2 linked regions of the Homo sapiens genome follow. The protein of the gene in region 2 purifies or fractionates together with the protein of the main gene of each other region. This does not show direct contact. Each region holds a gene or a part of one and is shown on either strand. Other genes may lie near its edges. The genes, in order: GLG1 and FOLH1.

Region 1 (3,831 bases), on a different chromosome or scaffold from region 2:
TTTAGTGATAAAGCCAAAATTTGAAGCCAAGTCTGACCCATGTGCTAAATCATGCTACCCTGAGTCTCCTCAAAATGTTGCACAATGTGTATTTCAAAAATGAAAACTAGGCCAGGCGCAGTGGCTCACGCCTGTAATCCCAGCACTTTGGGAGGCCGAGGCAGGCAGATCACGAGGTCAGGAGATCGAGACTATCATGGCCAACATGGTGAAATCCCATCTCTACTAAAAATACAAAAATTAGCTGGGCATAGTGGTGCGTGCCTGTAATCCAAGCTATTCCAGAGGCTGAACTAGGGAGTCGGAGGTAGCAGTGAGCTGAGATTGTGCCACTGCACTACAGCCTGGTGACAAAGCGAGACTCTGTCTCAAAAAAAAAAAAAAGAAAAGACAAGAAAACTATTCAGCTGGGCACAGTGGCTCACGCCTGTAATCCTAGCACTCTGGGAGCTAAGGTGGGAGGATCACGTGAGGGCAGGAGTTTTGAGACCCGGGATGCCAACGTGGCAAAACCTCATCTCTATTAAAAAAAAAAAAAAATTGCTAGGTGCGGTGGCTCACACCTATAATCCAAGCACTTTGAGAGGCCAAGGTGGGCGGATCACCTAAGTTTGGGAGTTCGAGACCAGCCTGACCAACATGGTGAAACCCCATCTCTACTAAAAATACAAGAATTAGCCAGGCGCAGTGGCACTCGCCTGTAATCCCAGCTACTTGGGAGGCTGAGGCAGGAGAATGGCGTGAACACGGAAGGCGGAGCTTGCAGTGAGCCGAGATTGCGCCACTGCCCTCCAGCCTGGGCGACAGAGCGAGAGACTCCGTCTCAAGAAAAAAAAAAAAAAAAGAAAAATACTCAAAGAAGCAAATATGGGAGGAAACTAACGTTTATATATATAAAGCTTTAGAGTGTGAATCCAAAAAGGAACAGAAATGATAATTAAAAAAAAAATATGAATGCTACCTCTGTGTACAGCTGACTCCAGGCACATTAACAAGTAGGAGAGCCTGGCTTCACGCGATCGCGGAAGGTTTTCCACATTGCACCGGTATTTCTTCAAGTCACTTTTACAGGATTTGGCCAATGAATAACTGACTTTATAATCCTGGGCAATCAGCTTTTGGCGGGTTGTAAGTGCTTCTCGACACTGAGGAAAGAGTACAGCAACAGCCGTGAGACCACTCATGTAACTTTACTGTTGACGTGTACCACTAAGATGAGCACAGCGACTCAGCCAAGTACATGTCAACAACTGCAGTTATTACCAACATATCTATCTTTAAGTTTGGTTAAAATGTTCACAATTGAGCTAAACTAGTGTGGCATGAGACAGGGGTAAGTGGGTGGGGAACCTAGAAATTCTGTAGTCACTTGCTAGTTGTTGCTGCAATAGCAGCTATCCAAAACATGTAAATATCTCACAGATCCCAATATGTTAACTTGACACACAGCATTCTTTTCCACTTTAACAATACCCCGAACATAAATTTCACTAGCATCAAACTGGCAACTAACATAACATTTGGGATATTCTGTTCAATGCTTTAAAATACAATTATTCAATTATTCTATATCATCTGAATAATAAGATTTGAATAAGATTGTTCAAATGATACAAGAAAAAGGAAATGAGAAACATTTCTTCAGCTACACAGGAAAGTAAATGACAAGATAGCAAAATTAATTATTTCAAAAGCCATCAACTATTCTTGCATTCATTCAGGGACAAAGAACTAAAAGAGGATGCTTAATGATATAGCTGCTGAAAAATTAAATAGCTAATTGCCTAGAAAGCACATTGATTTGGTTAACCTAAACTTCTTGAGGAGGCAGGGCTGGCCTTAGTGTGGTTTTATATAAAATTCTCTGATTTTACTCCCCAAACAAAGTAATATCTGAGAATTTTATATAAAATCACACTGAGGATTTTATATAAAACCACAGTGAGAGGCGGGTGGATCACCTGAGGTCAGGAGTTTGAGAGCAGCTTGGCCAACATGGTGAAACCCCGTCTCTACTAAAAATACAAAAATTAGCTGGGCGTGTTGTCAGGTGCCTGTAGTCATAGCTACTAGGGAGGCTGAGGCAGGAGACTTGCTTGAACCCGGCAGGCAGAGGCTACAGTGAGCCGAATCATGCCACTGCACCCCAGCCTGGGTGACAGAGAAAGACTCCACTCAAAAAAAAACAAAAACAAAACAAAACAAAAACACCTAAAAAAACCACCACAGTGAGAACCCTACTTGGCTTCTCACTATCTAGATATCACAATCAGGGTTTCATTTTCTTGGTTTCAGCCAAATATGCTTAAAACCCAAGTACCTCACCTCTGAAAGCGGTGAGCTTTATCAGTCATTTACGTTTCGGTATAAGATTATAAGAAATATTGTTTCAGAGAAATTGAGAAAGCTTTTTTTTTTTTTTTTTTTTTGAGACAGAGTCTCACTCTGTCACCCAGGCTGGAGTGCAGTGGTGCGATCTCAGCTCACTGCAACCTCCACCTCCTGGGTTCAAGTGATTTTCCTGCTTCAGCCTCCCGAGTAGCTGGGATTACAGGCGCCCACCACCACGGCCGACTAATTTTTGTATTTTTAGTAGAGACGGCGTTTCACCATCTTGGCCAGGCTGGTCTTGAACTCCTGACCTCGTGATCCACCTGCCTCAGCCTCCCAAAGTGCTGGGATTACAGGCGTGAGCCACCGTGTCTGGCTGAGAAAGCTTTTAAAAAACAAATAAAACATTCATTAGTTTCAAAATAATACTTACCTTTTCACTCATGGATTCTTCAAATTTATGGTTAAAGAGGCACTTATACACTCTGCCCTCACCAGCTTGTGTCTATAAGATGGAACATACACATTATTATTACTTTAGCTAAATAGTTATGCTGAACATTATCCACAATCTCATATAGAGCTTTCTATTAAACGATTATAATCGTACATACCTTTGGACAAACAGCGCTTCCATTTATAAAATTTAATAGGCTTTTAACAAAAACAGTGACTGCAGTAAAGACGAAAAAAATATTCCCATGATATTTGGAGTTTGTCATTTGTTCTCAGATGTATTTTGTTAATTAGGGAACCAAGAGAAGTGTTAGAGTCTGAGTCTTTTTTTTTTTTTTTTTTTTTGAGATAGAGTCAGTCTTGCTCTGTTGCCCAGGCTGGAGTGCAGTGGCACAATCTTAGCTCGGTGCAACCTCTGCCTCCTGGGTTCAAGCAATTCTCCTGCCTCAGAGCCCCAAGTAGCTGGGATTACAGGCCCCCGCCACCCTGCCCAACTAATTTTTTTATTTTTAGTAGAGATGGGGTTTCACCATATTGGTCAGGCTGGTCTCGAACTCCTGACCTCAAGTGATCTGCCTGCCTCGGCCTCCCAAAGTGCTGGGATTACAGGCGTGAGCCGCCGCACCCAGCCTCTGAGTCTTCTTTCTTACAAGTGTATGCTAGAGTTAACGAAACTCTTACATCAGTGGCTCTGATGGTTAAAGCTGTTAATGCAAACCAGCAGGCAGAGTGGAAGTGTACACAAGTTACTTTCAGTACTTTGTTGTAAGGATGGAGAGACCATTCTATTTAAAGACTTAGAAGGCTGTTCTGTAGAGTCAGCAGGTGGTAATCAAGGATTTGGTTTTAAAGATTAGCCACCTGCTGTTTTCTTCACCTTAGCCAAAAACACATAAATATATAATGCGTCAAAGTTTTAGCCATTGAATAGATGTAAATAAGATCCTGGGTAAAATAAAATTCCTATAGATAAAACAGACTTCCAAGAACTGAAATTGAGAAGTGAGATAAAGCAGAAAAAATACTAAGTGGAGATCATTAGAA
Region 2 (2,836 bases):
AAATGATATACAAGAGAAACACAAGAGCACTCTGCAATTCCTGGATTGCATATTCCTATAACAATTTGAACAAGCCACTTGTCAACTGAACTTCCAAGTTCAATCATCTCTGAAGACTATTATATGAAATCTATAGTAATTAATTATATTTTTATTTCAAACAAATAAATTAAAGTGGTTCAGTGCTACAAAACTAACAATGATGATAGTAACCACAGCAATCATTCTTGGTATTTAATGTTTACTTGCAATTTTTCTGATGTTTAGAAATAAACTCTACACAGTTGATATTAGTATTTCACAGAGAAGGAAACTGAGGTCTGAGAGATCAAGTAACTAAATGATTTGTCTCAAGGCACACGACAAGTAACTGCTGATTTTTTAATATATCATGCTACCCCCTATATTATAGCACAATTGTAATCATTACAGTCTTGCTTGTGATCAGCCAACCCTCTATTGTGGTTTTTTTTTTGTCTTTTTTTAAAAAGTCACACTACCATGTTAGAATACTTAATATAGAGTTTGAAGAATCATCAAAAACAATTTTGTAATGTTCCATGTGACCAAGGCAGAAAATGTTTTATAGAATGGGCTATGACAGTTCATGTAATAGCCCACAGAAGAGAAGGACAAACTCCATAGTAAAGATGTAAATAAGGCCAGAAGCAGTAGCTCATGCCTGTAATCCCATATATTAGGGAGGCCAAGGTGGGAGGATTGCTTGAGGCCAGGAGTTCTAGACGAGCCTGCGCAACATAGGGACACCCTGTCGCTACAAATGAACGTACAAATATTAGCTGGGCATGGTGGCATGTGACTGTAGTCCTAGCTTCTTTGGAGGCTGCTGCAGGAAGATTGGTTGAGCCCAAAAGTCTGAGGCTGCAGTGAGCTAAAATTGCACAACTGAACTCTAGCCTGGGAGACAGAGTGGGACCCTGTCTCTTAGGAAAAAAAGGGGGGGTGGGGGATGGATAAAAATATGCTGCTACTGGTGATCTGATCCAGTCAACCTGCTTGGAAGATGCTCTTACTCCCAAGCCCGACCCTTTGATAATCCCTAGAAAGAAAGTTAGGGCCATTTCTGGCTGTCCAATGATCTATCTCATTCTGCAATATTTAGAAGATCAACCTGGGGACAGTCAATGTTTGGCAGAAAAAAATCCAACTGTCAGGATTTAGGAGGAAATAAAATATCTAAATATCAACATTAGGGAAAAGAATAAATAAATATATATTTATTATATACATTATATATAGAGAGATGTTTGGGTTCTGTGTATACATAAGTAAAAATATATTTAAAATAGAAAAGGAGCTAAAATTATACACACCAGAATATAACAATGATTTTATATTTTTCTGATAAAATTGGGGAGATTTTTATTTTTTGTCATGGCTTTCTGGATCTTCTATATTTTCTAAAATAAATTTATATTCTTTTATAATCAGAACAAAGATACTCAAAATAAAGATATGCAAAAATCATATTACATTATATGAAGAAACAATACAACTATCACTTACTACATATATTTTGAAATTTTCTATTTGCTTGCAAGAAATCAACTACAATATTTTTTCCACAGTGAAAAAAATAAAAATAATTAGAAGAAAAAGTGATATTACAGAAAGGAGTCATATTTTCTTTTCTTACCTATAAAAAGGCCTGTCTGGTAACCCTAATGGATCAATAAATGCTCTTTCCAGAAACATGAGTTGATCATTCATCATTCTTAATACTATTGGGCTGAGAAAGAAAATGAATATAATTATAACTTCATGAAAATATGTTTCTACTCAGAAAATAAAAATTTCAGAACAAAACTGAATTTAGTTATCTCCGGGGATTGGTTTCAGGACCACCCTCTACACCAAAATTTGTGCATACTCAAGTCCTGCAAGGAGGACACATGTATGTGAAAAGTCGGCCCTCCTCCTTTGTGGAATTTTTTTTTATTATTATACTTTTAAGTTCGAGGGTACATGTGCACAACGTGCAGGTTTGTTACACATGTATACATGTGCCATGTTGGTGTGCTGCACCCGTTATCTCACTCATAGGTGGGAATTGAACAATGAGAACACTTGGACACAGGGTGGGGAACATCACACACCAGGGCCTGTCGTGGGGTGGGGTGAGGGGGGAAGGATAGCATTGGGAGGTATACCTAATGTAAATGACGAGTCCTCTGTGGAATTAACAGGGTGAAAATGAACAAACTACCAAACAAATTAAATTGATCTCTCGGTATAATGATCCAGATTTAAGTCTAAAAGTTACTTAAAATTATATCGTTTCAAGTGATTTTCAGAATGGTTTAAGTACAGCGTTCTTGGAGCCTGATATGACTTTCTGGATTAACTTGCTCTGCCTCAGTGAGGAAATGTAGCTGTGTATGTGGAATCTGAAGCCACATCTGATCTCCCTTGGGTTAGCTGCCCCCAGTATAACTCTTACCACATGCTTAATCCCCCTTTCACATCTTAGTCTTCATGTTGTTAAGACAATGAGATAGGCAATTATATAAAATAGAAAATGTTTGTGGAACACATGGCTAGTAGTCCAAATGGAATGTAACAGTTTTTTTTTAAGTTTCTATAATTCTCTTACTTTATATTTTTCATTAGTTTTTCATTAGCTACATCTGAGTTTCTCAGATTCAAGCTTGTAGAGTGAGCATCATTCTGTGATAAAAGTTCTAATATATCAAAGCTAAAAGAAAGATGCTTGTTGAGATTTTTTCCACATAAATGAATTTTCTCAGTTAAAATACTTTTGTTCTAGATTTATGTCCATCCTACTTTTAGATATTTTTAATGAAATCATTTTATG

Evidence for each region.
Region 1: the proteins of FOLH1 (region 2) and GLG1 purify together in Homo sapiens (affinity purification with mass spectrometry; one large-scale study listed by BioGRID and IntAct). This does not show direct contact.

What each region holds. Positions count from the first base shown.
Region 1 is NC_000016.10:74,491,996-74,495,826, forward strand, and holds part of GLG1 (Golgi apparatus protein 1 isoform 3 precursor), read right to left. Parts: intron 2,837-3,831; coding exon 2,765-2,836; intron 1,146-2,764; coding exon 962-1,145; intron 1-961. UniProt on the Homo sapiens protein: Binds fibroblast growth factor and E-selectin (cell-adhesion lectin on endothelial cells mediating the binding of neutrophils).
Region 2 is NC_000011.10:49,146,982-49,149,817, forward strand, and holds part of FOLH1 (glutamate carboxypeptidase 2), read right to left. Parts: intron 1,751-2,836; coding exon 1,658-1,750; intron 1-1,657. UniProt on the Homo sapiens protein: Has both folate hydrolase and N-acetylated-alpha-linked-acidic dipeptidase (NAALADase) activity. Has a preference for tri-alpha-glutamate peptides. In the intestine, required for the uptake of folate.